2 separate regions of the Homo sapiens genome follow, and region 2 is reported to be linked to region 1. The links are microRNA targets in miRTarBase. Many come from high-throughput screens and were not tested one by one. Region 1 holds a microRNA gene; the other region holds the end of a gene's coding sequence.

Region 1 (7,265 bases):
AGTGATTAGGCATGTAATTCATGGATCCCCTCAGCCACTTCAACAGAGGCCAAAAATGGAGATGAAATTATCCAAGAAAGATCTGTAGAGGAGCCTGTTTTTCTAATGGAGTGAATCCTGGAGATGTGCATAGTAAAATCACAATGTTCTTGAGAATCCTACAACGGTGGTAACACCATCAGCTTGGACTGATACAGGCAGAAAAGGGATGAAATGCACGAAGGCTGAATGGACACTCAAAATTCTACAGGTAGGAGATGGATGACAAGAATACCTGGTTGAAAATATGTGCAACCCTTCATGAAAATGAAGAAATAATTCTGAACTAGGCCCAGAGAGCAGACTCAAGCCACAGAGGATTATTCACAGGCCTTGAAATCTAATGGAATTTTCCCATGTAGATTTCTACATTTCTTGAGACTGGCAACTCCTTTTTCCTTCCACTTTATCCCTTTTTATGTAGGAATGTCTGTAACTGTTATCCTATGCCTGTCCCTCCATTGCATTTTGGGAACATATAATTTGTTTTGTAGTTTCACAGCTACACAGATGGAGAGGAACTCTGCTCAAGGACAGATTATAAAGAGATCCTCAGCCATATCTAATTTAAATAATTTGGACAATGAGATTTGGGACTTTTAAGCTGATGAAATTTAGATGATATTTTGAACTTGAGTTGATGCTATGATTGGTTGAGACTTTTGGAGACCTGAGAATGTGGTGTAATGTGTTTTGCATAAAGGAAGGATCTGAATCTTTGGGGAGCCAGAGGGCAAACTATGGCAGACTGAATAATGGTCCTCAAAGCAACTCCATCCAAATCCCTGGAAACTGTAAATATGTTACCTTAAATGGCAATAGAAGCCTTTTTGGATGTGATTGGGTTAAGGATCTTGAGATGGGAGGATTTTTCTGGAGTATTTGGGTGGACCGAACATAATCACAAGGGTCCTTATTGGAAGGAAGTAGGAAAGACAATTTCAGAGATGGGATGCAAGGACAAAAGCAAAGGTCAGAGTGCAAGAGAAATTTGAAGATGCTACATTGCTGGATTTGAATATAGAGAAAGGGGTCAAAGAAGTGATGTGGTTTCTAGAAGATGGGAAAAGCAAGAAAATGGATTTTCTTCTAGAGCTTCCAGAAGGAATGCAAGCCAACCAATACCTTGACTAGGATATTTGACCTCTAGAATAATAAATTTGTGCTGCTTCAAGCCACTAAGTAGATAGGAATTTGTTATAGCAGCCACAGGACAATACAAATGCCTCTATTATAATTTGGTAAAAAAAAAAAAAAAATCACATCCCAGGAATCTCAGAGTTAAAATAGCAAAGAGCATGCTTAACAAGACACTAAAAAATAACTTATAACACTTAAAAATCCTGATGATATTTTTCTGTTGACCGTTATCTTGTGGAAATGTGACAACTGTGACAACACAAAAATGGAACATCTCATCACTCCAACAGGATGAATTCTGCTTTGTAAACTGAAAGAAAAGTAATTCAATAAATATACATTGCTGTTGTATAGTCAACACAGTTTTTCCTAATGGTGCATTAGCATCTGAAAGTGCAGGAGGAATAGTTTATTTAGACTTTGAACCCATTACCGTAAATGAGGGCCCCCTTCACCAAGGACCCCTCTTCAATTATCTCATCAACTTAATTTCAAAAATCATACAAATAGTTTTTAAAAGCCACTTCAAATGTTATAGGGCAATGAGATTGCCCATAGTTCAGGCAGTAATATATATTCAGTAATCGGAATCATGGCATGATTTATTCTCTTTTAAGGATGTCTAAGTTTTTCCAAGAGTCAGGATATAATCACAATAGAAACACATATATAACAAAGTGGTTTCAAAGCATCCCTTACCTGTGTAACAAGTGGCTCCAACAGCCTTTCCACTGTTAGCGTCCGGATTTCCAAACTTTTGGGGTCCCATTTCAGAATGATAGGTGAAGTTGCCGAAGTCATGCTCCCTATGGGAACACATGTAATCAGTTAGAAATAATCATCTTTGAAATAAATTGTAACTTTGGTGATTCAAAATGGGTAAATCACTGAAACTTAGAACATACTGGAAGATAGCCTCTCTGGTCCAACCTGGTCAAATTAGAGATGGAAAAACCAGACCAGTACACTGTGAGGTGGCAATGTTGGAATCAGATTAAAAACTGAGGCCTCCTCAGCATACTGGTGTACCTTAGGCCTGCTTTTGGGACCCAATAGCCACTGAAATATTTCATTTACTCAACAATGAGTATGCATACCTATCTGCTATATGCTGCGAAAGGTTTCAGTCTTGCTTTCAAGTAGCTTAATGTTTAAAGTTAGAGATAGCCAAATATGGGAACAATTAGGTCTCAGTGTGACACATGTTGTGATTAAGAAACACAGAGAGTTCTAGATCCCTGAGGAATCGCCACACTGACTTCCACAATGGTTGAACTAGTTTACAGTCCCACCAACAGTGTAAAAGTGTTCCTATTTCTCCACATCCTCTCCAGCACCTGTTGTTTCCTGACTTTTTAACATGGAATACTATGCAGCCATAAAAAATGATGAGTTCATGTCCTGTGTAGGGACATGGATGAAATTGGAAATCATCATTCTCAGTAAACTATTGCAAGAACAAAAAACCACACACCGCATATTCTCACTCATAGGTGGGAATTGAACAATGAGATCATATGGACACAGGAAGGGGAACATCACACTCTGGGGACTGTTGTGGGGTGGGGGGAGGGGGGAGGGATAGCATTGGGAGATACACCTAATGCTAGATGACGAGTTAGTGGGTGCAGCACACCAGCGTGGCACATGTATATGTATGTAACTAACCTGCACAATGTGCACATGTACCCTAAAACTTGAAGTATAATAAAAATAAATACATTTAAAAAAAAAAAAAGAAACACAGAGAGGACTATGGGAGAGGTGAGGAAGGGGCATCAATGTCAGTCTGGAGAGAACAACAAAGAATAGCAGGAAGCAAAGTAAATCCACCAATGATTACTAGATGTAGGAACCCCTTTATAACAAAAGGCTACTTTTTTCTTCACATCATAACTGACCCCTGAGAATATCATACTCCTTGGGACAAGAGTTTCAGTCTCTTAAATATGAAAGACATCTTCAAACTAAGTGCCAATGTTCTGAAAAATTATCTGCTACTATTTACATGCTCTCTGATTACTCACTACATTTACATTCTTGTCCCATAAAATCAGTGACTGATAAGGTTATTTATTTCACTCTAAAGCAATCCTCTCTTACCTAAGAACCACTGACATGCAGGTAGCAGTCTCCACACAACAAGCAAAAAATTACAGTTCTAGCCCCTCCCCCCCCCCCCCCGAAAAAGTATACATTCTATCAGGGGTTTGTTTCTTTCATCAAGAAATTGCTAAATACATTCTGACATCTAACCACTGGACAAGCAACCTTAGATTGTACAAACCGAATCTGAATGATTTGCCTTAATACCAACATAAATCAAAATGTCCATGGCTGTTCTTTTATTTTGAATCAATGTCCCCATTCAATTCCAACCTTATAAATCAATGTAGATGATTATTTCTACTAGAATTAACACGACAAAGAAGGCCTATCACAATAGGCACTAGTAGAAATGTGCCTCTTTACTGGCTCTCTTACAGCTAAAGCTTTTGCAAATAGACCCAACCAATTTGCTTCAGAAAAAAAGTAGAGGCAAAGACACAGTGTGCTGGTATTTTAACTCTCTCCAAATGCCATGTTTTAAATAAACTAAGCATAGCAATCCAACCATACAGACCGATTTAGATTTGGGTTTCTTCATCACAACAATAGTTGGCACCGACATGCTGCCTGTCCTCCAAAAACCTAAAAACACTTTACACATTTTCCATTCACACTACCAACTGCCATAGAGCAGCTCTGTCATATACAGAATTCTGCCGCTGGGCAACACACCTTCTCATGCCATAGAAGGATAAAGATGCCAGATGCTTCCTGCAGACACTGGGATACCTTCATCCCTACTGAAGCCAGACCTACCTAAGTGATCTTAGTCCAGTACTTATGATACAGCTGTTGCAAGTTTCTGGAGAAGTTCCCTGAGAACCTTTTTCAAACTCTAATGGAATCACAAGTGGCATAATAATGATGATGAACACGGAAGTTCTGTAGGAAAGCTGGATACTCAGTCATGGTCATTGTAACATGATAGTGACAGGTACTGGGTAAGACTGCATAGAGAATTTCCATTATAACATGGGCATGCTTGTAGACATACGCTGATAGATCAAGGAAGGCACATAAAATTATAGCTGTTCCATTATGTAACTTTTAAAACATGACACAAAAATGCTGGGGAAGTCACAACAGAGACATGAATCTAGCATGCATCAAGCAGAAGTGAAAGATACTCCTTAAACAAAGATCTCAAGCCAACTATGAGCCAAGAAGCAAGTGTTAGTTAGGGCCTTCAGTCCTGAAGGTCACAGAGCCCTTCTAACTCTAAAAATAAAAGAACAATAGTTCCCAGACAAATCACTCAAATTAATTTATTCCTTTGAGGATCAATCTTTTTAGTCATTTCTTGTGACAAAGGTAAAATTCAGTAGCAAAGAAAAGGTTACACGGTACTAATTTGTTGAAGTGGAAAAATAAGTCATAGAAATGTGAAATGCTGTTTTCCAGCCATGCTGTTTCTGATACAGTTGAGACTAAAACCAGGAATTCTGTCTCTACCCCATAATCTTTTCACCATTTAGTTTACTAACCACATTAGCAATGAACAAAAGGAGTGGTGGTGGGGACCGCAAAATCCCCACCTCTAAACCCATGATGTTGATATGTAAGATTCCCTTTGAGTTGCCTCTAAGGGGCATTTTAGCTTCATATCAGCCATTGAGCACAAGGTAGAAGAAGGTAAGAAGCTCCCCTGCCTGTGATACCTCAGCTGGTATCATCTTTACAGTTTGCTGTTTCTAGAAAAAGTATTCCCATCCTGCATGTCCTGCTACTTGTAAAACATTGGATTGCTTTCTGCTGTCTGTATTAGACCTTGTAGTAGGAACATTTTCCTTAAAAAATCCCTTGGCCAATTGGAATTGCATGAAAACAGAAAAAAAAGATTCTGTTCCAGGATAGTAATCATAACCATAGTCTTCTAGAATCACTCATTAATGATCTTTGCCTCCAGAGTTCTAGTATGAACAAATTAGGGCAGAGAAGGCAAAATGAGTCAAACATCCTCTAGAGCAAAAAGGGAGGCAATGGTAGTCAGAAAATATGAATTGATGATTTGGTATGTGGCCCCTCTGACAAGCACACACAATAAGGTGACTCCTAACTGAGAATGTCATCCCGCCTGTACATTCAATATTTATGAATTAGGAAGGACAGAGAAAATGCACAGGCATTTGAGGTAGATTGGAGGATTTTTCAGTAAATAGTCATTTCCTTCCCATCCTCACCTCCATGAGAAGAGAATATTTTCCTATTCCATTGCTATTGAGCTTTGGCTAGAGGAATGTTAAGAAATATGACGTGAGTAGACATTTGGAATGTGCTTACTTAATTGGGCTTCTCCTCTGTGCTACTGCCTTCTGCCATAAGAGTCACATATAACCTACTGGTCCAAAACGAAAGAAGGACACATGGAGCACACCTGAATCCGAGCTGGAGCTGGAGCCAAGCACAGCTAAGTTAAGCCTAGTCAGCCAACTCCCAACCAAACCATCAACACATGATCAAGAAGTAAATGCCTGCTGTTGTATGTTGCATGCCACTGAGATTTTGCCATTAACTATTAATCAGCAATAGCTAACACAATGGTATCAAATAGACTTTTGTTTAAATTGAAGCCCTGCCATTCAAGTATTTATCATATACTCTGGGCCAGGCATTGTTCTAGGTAGCAGGGCTACATCAGTGGACAAAACCAGCAAAAATATCTGCTGTCTCGGCAGAGATCACACTCTGGAGGGAAAGACTGAAAATAAACAAATAAGGAACGTATACTGAAAAAAAAAACTTGAAGCCTTGCAATTTATTAGCTCTGTGATACTGTTCAATTGCCTGCCCTTTCTGAGTCCCAGTTTCCTCAAATGAAAAATCAGGATAATAAGGATTTTATAGGCTTATTGTGAGGATTAAATAACTTAATGGATAGAAAGCATGCTAACATTCCTGGAAATATTTGTTATTATTGTTATGTTGTCATTATTTTCCCAAATTTAAATTTCCTTTTTTGGCAATTCTTTATCTCTGAAGTAACAGGTAAACACTCATTAAAATAGAGATCCAGATTTACACTCCTCTATGTGGAACAACCAAATTGACACAAACGAGAAAACAAGAGAACAGATCAAGTGTGCAGTCTCACGAGCCCTTCATCTTTCTGAGGATAAAATGATATATAGTCTCAATCCCATCTGTGCAATTAATACCGTCTGTTTGCCCACAAAAGAAAATTTACATAAAGCAAATAAATTTCTTCTCACTGATTTGAATTCAAAGTAAAAATTTATATTTTACTTACCTTTGGTAGAGAGACTTAGAATACAGACTGGATACAGTCAAAGAGTGAAAAACAAGATTGTAAATAACAAAAGACAACAAGTTTGTCTTCTTCCATACAGCACAATGTTACAAGCCTATGAGAAAGCTCCTAGAATTTGAATTTCTGAGGAGAGTTTCTTCGTGAAAAGTTTTAGCTGGGCACAGTGGCTCATGCCTGTAATCTCAGCACTTTGGGAGGCCACAGTGAGTGGACTGCTTGAGCCCAGAAGTTTGAGACCAGCCTGGACAACATAGTGAGACCAATATCTACAAAAAATACAAAAATTAGGTGAGCATGGTGGCACAATATTGTAGTCCCAGCTACTGAGGAGGCTGAGGTGGGAGGATCACTTGAGCCCAGGGATGTCGAGGCTTCAGTGAGTCATGATTGTGCCACTGCACTCCAGCCTGAGCAACAGAATGAGATCCTTTCTCAAAAAAAAAAAAAAAAAAAAAAGACAGAAAGAAAAGTTTTAAATTGTGTTTCCATGTAAGGTAATAATACAGCCCACCTGGTAATACTTCAGATAATTTCATATTCTTTCTGTGGTGGTAAGAAAGAGGCACAGGCCAGGATGCTATCAGCTATTTGTCACTCATGATAGAAAATACAAAACCTGACAGAAAAGAAAAGTCAGAGTAAAATGGGCTCCTCTGTGAAGCAGCCAAGGGTTAAGGGGCTTGTTTCCTTGGACAGCGTCCTGATAAGG
Region 2 (7,000 bases), not on the chromosome of region 1:
TACAAGAATTAGCCAGGTGTGGTGGCACATGCCTGTTATCTCAGCTACTCAGGAGGTTGAGGCACAAGAATAGGCTGAACCCAGGAGGCAGAGGTTGCAGTAAGCCAAGATCACACCACTGCACTCCAGACTGGGCAACAGAGCAAGACTGTCTCAAAAAAAAAAGAAAAAAACAAAAACAACAAAAAAAACCCACCACTTATATCTGAACCTTGGAGAAACAACTACTGGTTTTTTAGTGTAAGTATGTCCTATTAACAACTAAAAAATTCATTGCTTCTCCAAAATTCAAACTTAAATGCACATCCTATATAATATTTTTATTTGCTAAACCTAGGAACCCTAATTAGGGCCTCGTAACTCATTGCACAAAAGATTCATACTTTCTTCCTTGCATGTAAAATAGAGATTAACCGATATCTTTCCCCATCTTTTCCCTTGTTTCATATAAAGTGTATTATTGATAATTGTTAACGAAAAAAAGAAAAGATACACAATTTATAAATTTTGAGAGGAGACTTTATTTCTTATAAAGGGTTAGGCTGGGCCTGGTGGCTCACACCTATAATCCCAGCACTTTGGGAGGCCAAGGCAGGAGGATCACTTGAACCCAGGAGGCCTTAACCAGCCTGGACAACATAGTAAGAACCCATCTCTACAAAAAATTTTACAAATTAGCCAGGTGTGGTGGCATGCACCTGTAGTCTTAGCCACCCCGGAGGCTGAGGCAGGAGGATCACTTTTGCCCAGGAGTTTGAGGTTGTAGTGAGCTATGATCGCACCACTGCACTCCAGCCTCAGAAAGGGAGTGAGACCTGCTGGGAAGCATGTCTCCAGCCAAGACCAGAGACAGGCACTTCAAAGAAGGAGGGGTTAGGGTAGGAGCTTCATGCTCAATGGATTGACTAAACATACACATTCAACAGGTTACATGAGGAGCTATGAATATTCATGAAAGTGGTTCTGACACATGCATATTGAACAAACATGCATGCAACATACAACCCATGGTCACTTTGGGGTGGAGACTTAACATTTAAATGTATTATAATTAGGCCCTATATGGCAAAAGGTCTTTTCAGGACACAAAGACATGCAAGTGCAGGAGCTCTGTAAGCCAGCCAGAACCAGTCCATGATGGGTAGTCACCTTGTCAGGAAAAAGTTACTGAAATCAGTCACTTGTCCAACCAAAGCTGTAGTTATGGCTGGTGGAACAGTGGTTGGAGGTCAGTTAGTCAGCATCTGATGAAGCTGAAAATGTTTTTAATATTGCTTATCTCAAAGCCAGTGCTTGGACCGGGTGCGGTGGCTCACGCCTGTAATCCCAACACTTTGGGAGGCTGAGGCGGGCAGATCACCTGAGGTCAGGAGTTCAAGACCAGCCTGGCCAATATGGTGAAACCCCATCTCTACTAAAAATACAAAAATTAGCCGGGTGTGGTGGCGGACACCTGTAATCCCAGTTACTCAGGAGGCTGAGGCAGGAGAATCACTTGAACCCAGGAGGCAGAGGTTGAAGTGAGCCAAGATCACGCCACTGCACTCCAGCCTGGGTGACAGAGTAAGACTCCGTCTCAAAACAAACAAAATAAAAAGTGGTTTTTGTTTTGTTTTGTTTTTAAGCTTTTTAGCTGCTACAGGGAAAAAAAAACCAAAAACAAAAAACCTTGTGCAGTTAGAACATAGTTTATTCATAAGTTGGGGGCAGGGGAGGCGGGGCATGAAGGTGGGCTCTACATGACTTAACCCTTGCTTGGCATGGCCTTAGGTCCTGTTTACAATTTGGTATCTTATTGCCACAGTGTCTGTTCTGTCCATCTCATGATCCCTATTTTGTTCATTCATGCTCGGCAGCTGTGTCTAAACCATAAAGGGATGGGGTATAACAAGTTGCATCTGACCTCCCAACCCATCAGGGCCAGGAATTGTTTTAAGTTTTTTCTGAGATTCCCTCGGCCACGAGGTGGCATCTGTTCAGTCGGTGGGGTTTTAGGATTTTTAGTTTACATAACTGATTTGATAATCCAGGGCATTTGTTACAGCGTATCCAGGTGAGATTATGACTCAACTATTTAGCACCTCCATCTCAACATGTACTTCCCCAACGGTCATGGCAGAGGAAGAGAGGGCTGGAAAATTGAGCACTGGCAATGACATATTTTGCCCCAAAACTGACCCCTTCACATTTCTTTTTTCTTTTTTGAGACGGAGTCCTGCTCTGTCATCCAGGCTGGAGTGTAGTGGCCCAATCTCAGTTCACTGCAACCTCCACCTCCCGGGTTCAAGCGATTCTCCTGCCTCAGCCTCCTGAGTAGCTGGGATTATGAGCACGCCACCACACCCGGCTAATTTTTGGATTTTTAGTAGAGACGGGTTTCACCATGTTGGCCAGGCTGGTCTCAAATTCTTCACCTCAGGTAATCAACCCACCTCGGCCTCCCAAAATGCTGGGATTACAGGTGTGAGCCACCGCCCCCGGCCCTTGACTCCCTTCACATTTCATTAGCCAGAGCTGGGCTTGTGGCCAGACCTGCCTTGAAGGAGGCAAGGAAGGGTATGTGAACATGAGCAACGTCCACACAGGTGGACAAGGTGACCCGTGTGACTTTGGTTCCCTCTCTTTAGGAAGAATTTTTGGTTGTACTTGGGACAGTTACAGGCATGCTGCTATTGCCATGATCTTCGGGAAGCTGAAGTGATGAGCAGCAGTGTGTGATTCTGAGGACACAGAGGGCTGGGGTCTAGGAGCTATCTCAGGTGGGCTCAGTCAGTGCCATCCTCCCTTTTGGTGCCTCCCTAGAAGTGCTGAGAAGATGCAAAACCAAAAGCTTTTACTCCAACATTGCTTAGCCAAGCTAAGCACATGCATTCCCTATGATTCAGCAATTCTGCTCCTAGCATGTATCCCAGAGAATTGTCCCATGGGTCCATAGGGGCATATAAGAATGGCCATTGCAGCAAAGTTCTGGTTGGGGTAGGGGGAGCTGAAAGTCATCTGGTGTCCACAACTGGAGGAATGGATGGATAAAATGGGATGGATGCACAAGTGGGCAGACAGATGGGTGAAAGGATGGTCAGTCCTTACATGGACCAGTTTCCTTATTCTTAGGCTAAGGATTAGCATCTCCAGGCAAAAAGAAAACGTTTCTGGATTCCCTTGCCACTGGAGTTCCGTGGAAGAGAGAAATGGAGTCCACTAATGAGGTGTCCTTTGAAGGATATGGATGGAGGACACAGGGCCAAGGAAGTTTGCTCTGCGGGCCCAGCCTTGGAGATGTTCAGTCCTTCTGCAGCAGCACCACGCTTCTGGCTTTGTGGGTGTCAGGAGGCAGGAGTGGCAGTCCCACCCCATGTCCCAGGGCCCAAGCCCAGCTTCCTGGGTGCTTACAGGGGATGGCAGGCAGGACAGTACGTTCTGATCCCAGCTCCAGTGGGAGCTTCCTGGAGGCGACTTCTCCAGCCTTCCCATGTACTTTAAGTACCCTGATTCCCTTAAATCCCCTTCTGCCAAAAACAGCTGGAGAAGTTTCTGTTTCCTGAAACTGACCCCTTCCTGATTTGGAAATGACTTGCCGAGGTGACAAAGCAAGTTATTGCCACATCTCAAGTTTGAGACAGGCCTCCTGACTCCACCTATTAACAGTACCACTGTCCCAGGCCCTTTCTTTTTTTTCTTTTTTTGAGACAGAGCCTTGCTCTGTCGCCCAGGCTGGAGTGCAGTGGCGTGATCTCGGCTCACTGCAACTTCTGCCTCCCAGGTTCAAGTAATTCTCCTGCCTCAGCCTCCCAAGTAGCTGGGATTACAGGCGCCCGCCACCACGCCCGGCTAATTTTTGTATTTTTATTAGACACAGGGTTTCGCCATGCTGGCCAGGCTGATCTCAAACACCTGGCCTCAGGTGATCCACCCGCCGCAGCCTCTCAAAGTGCTGGGATTACAGGCATGAGCCACCGCACCCAGCCCAGGCCCGTCTTTCCTCTCCTAGTCTGCCCCAATCGGAAGGATCAGGAGGCGTAAAGCTGGCCCATGGGGAACCTGTGGCTGGGAGCCCATGAGGCAGGGGCAGCAGAAGAGGGCAGAGACGGTTGGGACCTCTGTGGCCCTGGCTGAGGTCTGCTCTGATGGCATGGTAATGGAAACCTGCTACCAGATGACAAAACACTATTACCAAACAGCTGGGTGACCTTAGGAAAATCACTCAACCGCTCCTGCCTACGGATTTCCTCATCTGCGGGGCCCTGCAGAGCTGTTGCAAGGATGAAATGAGGCAACGTACATGTGCCTGGCAGCACAGCTGACCCCACACAGCTCAATCCTCAGTGTTTGCATGTTTGGGAAAAAAAAACAACAACTAGAGGAACTAGTTCTTCTTACCTGGGAAGATTCCTAAGCACAAATTAGGTTTCTTAGGGGCTGAGATTAGAAAAAACTTGGTCTCAGACCCTAGACCTTATTAGCAGGCCCTTCCTAGAGCTGGCTCTAATCGGCACAGCTTGGGAAGCTCTCCACCTGGCCACTGCTGTCTTTCTGTTTCTGGCTTAGGCCCACTGGCCTGCCTGGCGTGAGCTCCCTGGGGCAGGGAGCTTGCAAACCTTGGGAGTTGAGAAGCGCTGGCTCGGCCAGGTGTGGGGGCTCACACCAGTAATCCCAACACTTTGGTGAGGCTGAGGCAGAAGAGTCATTTAAGCCCAGGAGTTCGAGACCAGCCTAGGAAACAGGGAGATCCTGTCTGCAAAAAATACAGTGGTGACTCACACCTGTAGTCCCAGCTACTCGGAGGCAGGCTGAGATGGGAGGATCACCTGAGCCTGAGAGGCAGAGTCTGCAATGATCCCTAATCACACCACTGCACTCCAGAGCGCCAGAGTGAGATCCTGTCTTTAACCCCTCCCCGAAAAAAAAAGAAAGAAAAGTACTGTCCAACAGGTCAGGTCCACACTCTAGCTTCAGCCTTCTTCCTAAATCACTGAGTGGCCTTGGGCAAGGCCAGACCCTCTCTGGGAAGCAGAAAGGAGATTTTTCCCCTGCCTCCTGGGCAGAGATTCTGGAGAGCACTAGTGTGTCTGGGTGAGAAGGAACTCTGTAGCTCTACAGTGCCGGGTTCTGTCTGGAAGCCTTCTTGGGGCCTATGACCCTGCTATGGTTTGAATGTTTGTCCCCTCCCACGCTCACGTTGAAATGCGATTGCCACTGTAACAGTATAAGATTAGACCCTAAGAGGTGGTCAGGCCACGAGGGCTCTGCCCTCCTGCGTGGACTCAGGCCGTTATCTTGGGAGTGGGTTCGCTCTCTCCCCTCACTCCTGTCACTCTGTCCTCTGTCATGGGAAGATGCAGAAGGGTCCTCACTGGGCTCTGGGCCCTCCACTATGGACTTCCCAGCCTCCAGAGCTCTGAGCCAATACATTTCTGTTTATTATAACTTACCCCGTCTCAGGGATCTTGCTAGAGCAGCAAAAACAGACTCAGACAGACCCTCACCCCCAGGAGCCTGCTCCCAACCGGGGCCCAAAAGAAAACAAGCCAGCGAGGGCACTGCGGAATGCAGGGTTTTGGCGACAGAGCTACAGGAGTGTGCCTTGGCCCCCACAAGGGCCACAGTCCTGCCCCCACCTGGTCTCCCGGGGCTCAGACAGCAGCCGCCAGCCCACGGAGGTAGTCCCCCGCCAGGGGCAGCACGGCCCAGTCATCGGTCCGCAGGGCCACAGGCACTCCATCTGCCAGGGCCGCCTCCAGCCGCAGCAGCAGCTTTGAGTCCGGGGGCAGGTGGATTGCTACACAGTAGCTGGTAGGAGGCTGGGCCACCACCACAAAAGGCTCCAGGTGGCGGGACACCAAGCCCTCCAGGCCCTGTGGCCCAAGTGGACACCACACACGACTCTCAGCACCCTCTGGCAGGCAGGAATCCCAGAGCTCCTCAAAGAAGCCCAGCCCGGCCCCCTCTGGAGGCTGCGGGAAAGGCAGAAAGAGGTCGGCAAAGTTCACGAACAGGGGTGGCAAGTGGGCATGGCACGTGAGACCAGTGGATGTGGTGTAAAGGGCATGGACATCCAGCCGTGCGGGGGCCGGGCATCGGGGCTGCAGAGGCAGGAGCAGAGGGCGGGCAGGGCGGCCAGGACACAGGCAGGGCACATGGACAGCCTCCAGGGGTGCATACAGCTGTCCTTCCACACGGAAGCGCAGCTCCAGAGAGTAGATGGGCTCCAGCGCCTCCGGCTGGAGCTTCAACACTGGGAGTGGGCCCTTGACCCGATGGGACCCCAGGCTCAGCCGTACCAGGGCCGGTGCCTCCTGCACCATCAGTGCTGCCACAAAGCCCTGGTTCTCGGCCACCAGTGAAGAGGCCAGTGCAGGTGCGGCAAGCGAGGGGCCCAGGGCCACCCCCAACTTGGGTGCTGCCAGGTGTGCCAGCAGGATGTAGTAGAGGCGGGCGTGGTCACGCCCATCAGGGTCCTCCAGCTGCCTGGCCAGCACCTGCAGCAAGTCGACCAGGCCGCCCCTCACCCCTGCCCGCAGCAGCGCCCGGCAGACCCGCAGCAGGCCCTGCTGTAGGTCCCAGTTCGTGCAGTGGGCAGCCGCGGCCTGTAGAAAGTTGAGGGTAGCACTCTGGGCATCTCCATCTGCCACCTTTGCCAGCATTTGCAGGTGCCAGCAAAGAGCTTCATCCCTGCCCGGCCTGGACACCACCACCTGCCGCAACACCACCTTCAGGGGCTCCCTCAGCTCAGAGTCCACCTGATCCAAGAGGTCCACAAAGTGGGGAGCCAGCATGGGCCGGGCTTGGTACAGCTGGGCCAGTCCGTGGATCAAGGGGGTCAGCACCGTAGGTTGCCCAGCCAGGCAGCAGGCCACCAGATACGAGGCCTGGAAGCAGAGAGTGGCCAAGGCCCGGGGGCCCCCATCCAGGGCTGCCCGCTGCCGCAAGCCAGCCAGCAGCTCTTCCAGGTAGTGCCGTGGGCTTGGAAGCTGGCCTTTCTCCTCTTCTTCCTCCTCGGCAC

Evidence for each region. The annotated mature microRNA hsa-miR-4264 reads ACUCAGUCAUGGUCAUU and lies in region 1 at 4,188-4,204, shown strand. An mRNA with a match to its seed (bases 2 to 7 or 8) in the 3' UTR can be bound and repressed. Matches are read on the target gene's strand: a 7mer-m8 pairs with bases 2 to 8, a 7mer-A1 pairs with bases 2 to 7 and ends in A, and an 8mer does both.
Region 2: the mRNA of AP5B1 is a reported target of hsa-miR-4264. Seed matches in the 3' UTR shown: 7mer-m8 at 2,765-2,771 and 7mer-A1 at 2,252-2,258.

What each region holds. Positions count from the first base shown.
Region 1 is chr2:79,646,272-79,653,536 of GRCh38, reverse strand. MIR4264 (microRNA 4264) reads left to right here and starts at 4,178; the gene lies at 4,178-4,243. CTNNA2 (catenin alpha 2) reads right to left here. Exons shown (of 19, transcript NM_001282597.3): 2 at 1,879-1,985. The coding sequence starts at 1,980.
Region 2 is chr11:65,772,226-65,779,225 of GRCh38, forward strand. AP5B1 (adaptor related protein complex 5 subunit beta 1) reads right to left here. Exons shown (of 2, transcript NM_138368.5): 2 at 1,673-7,000. The coding sequence ends at 5,631. Among named protein-coding and RNA genes, the nearest start is that of AP5B1, 5.2 kb to the right of the region's middle. RefSeq lists an enhancer at 5,120-6,024.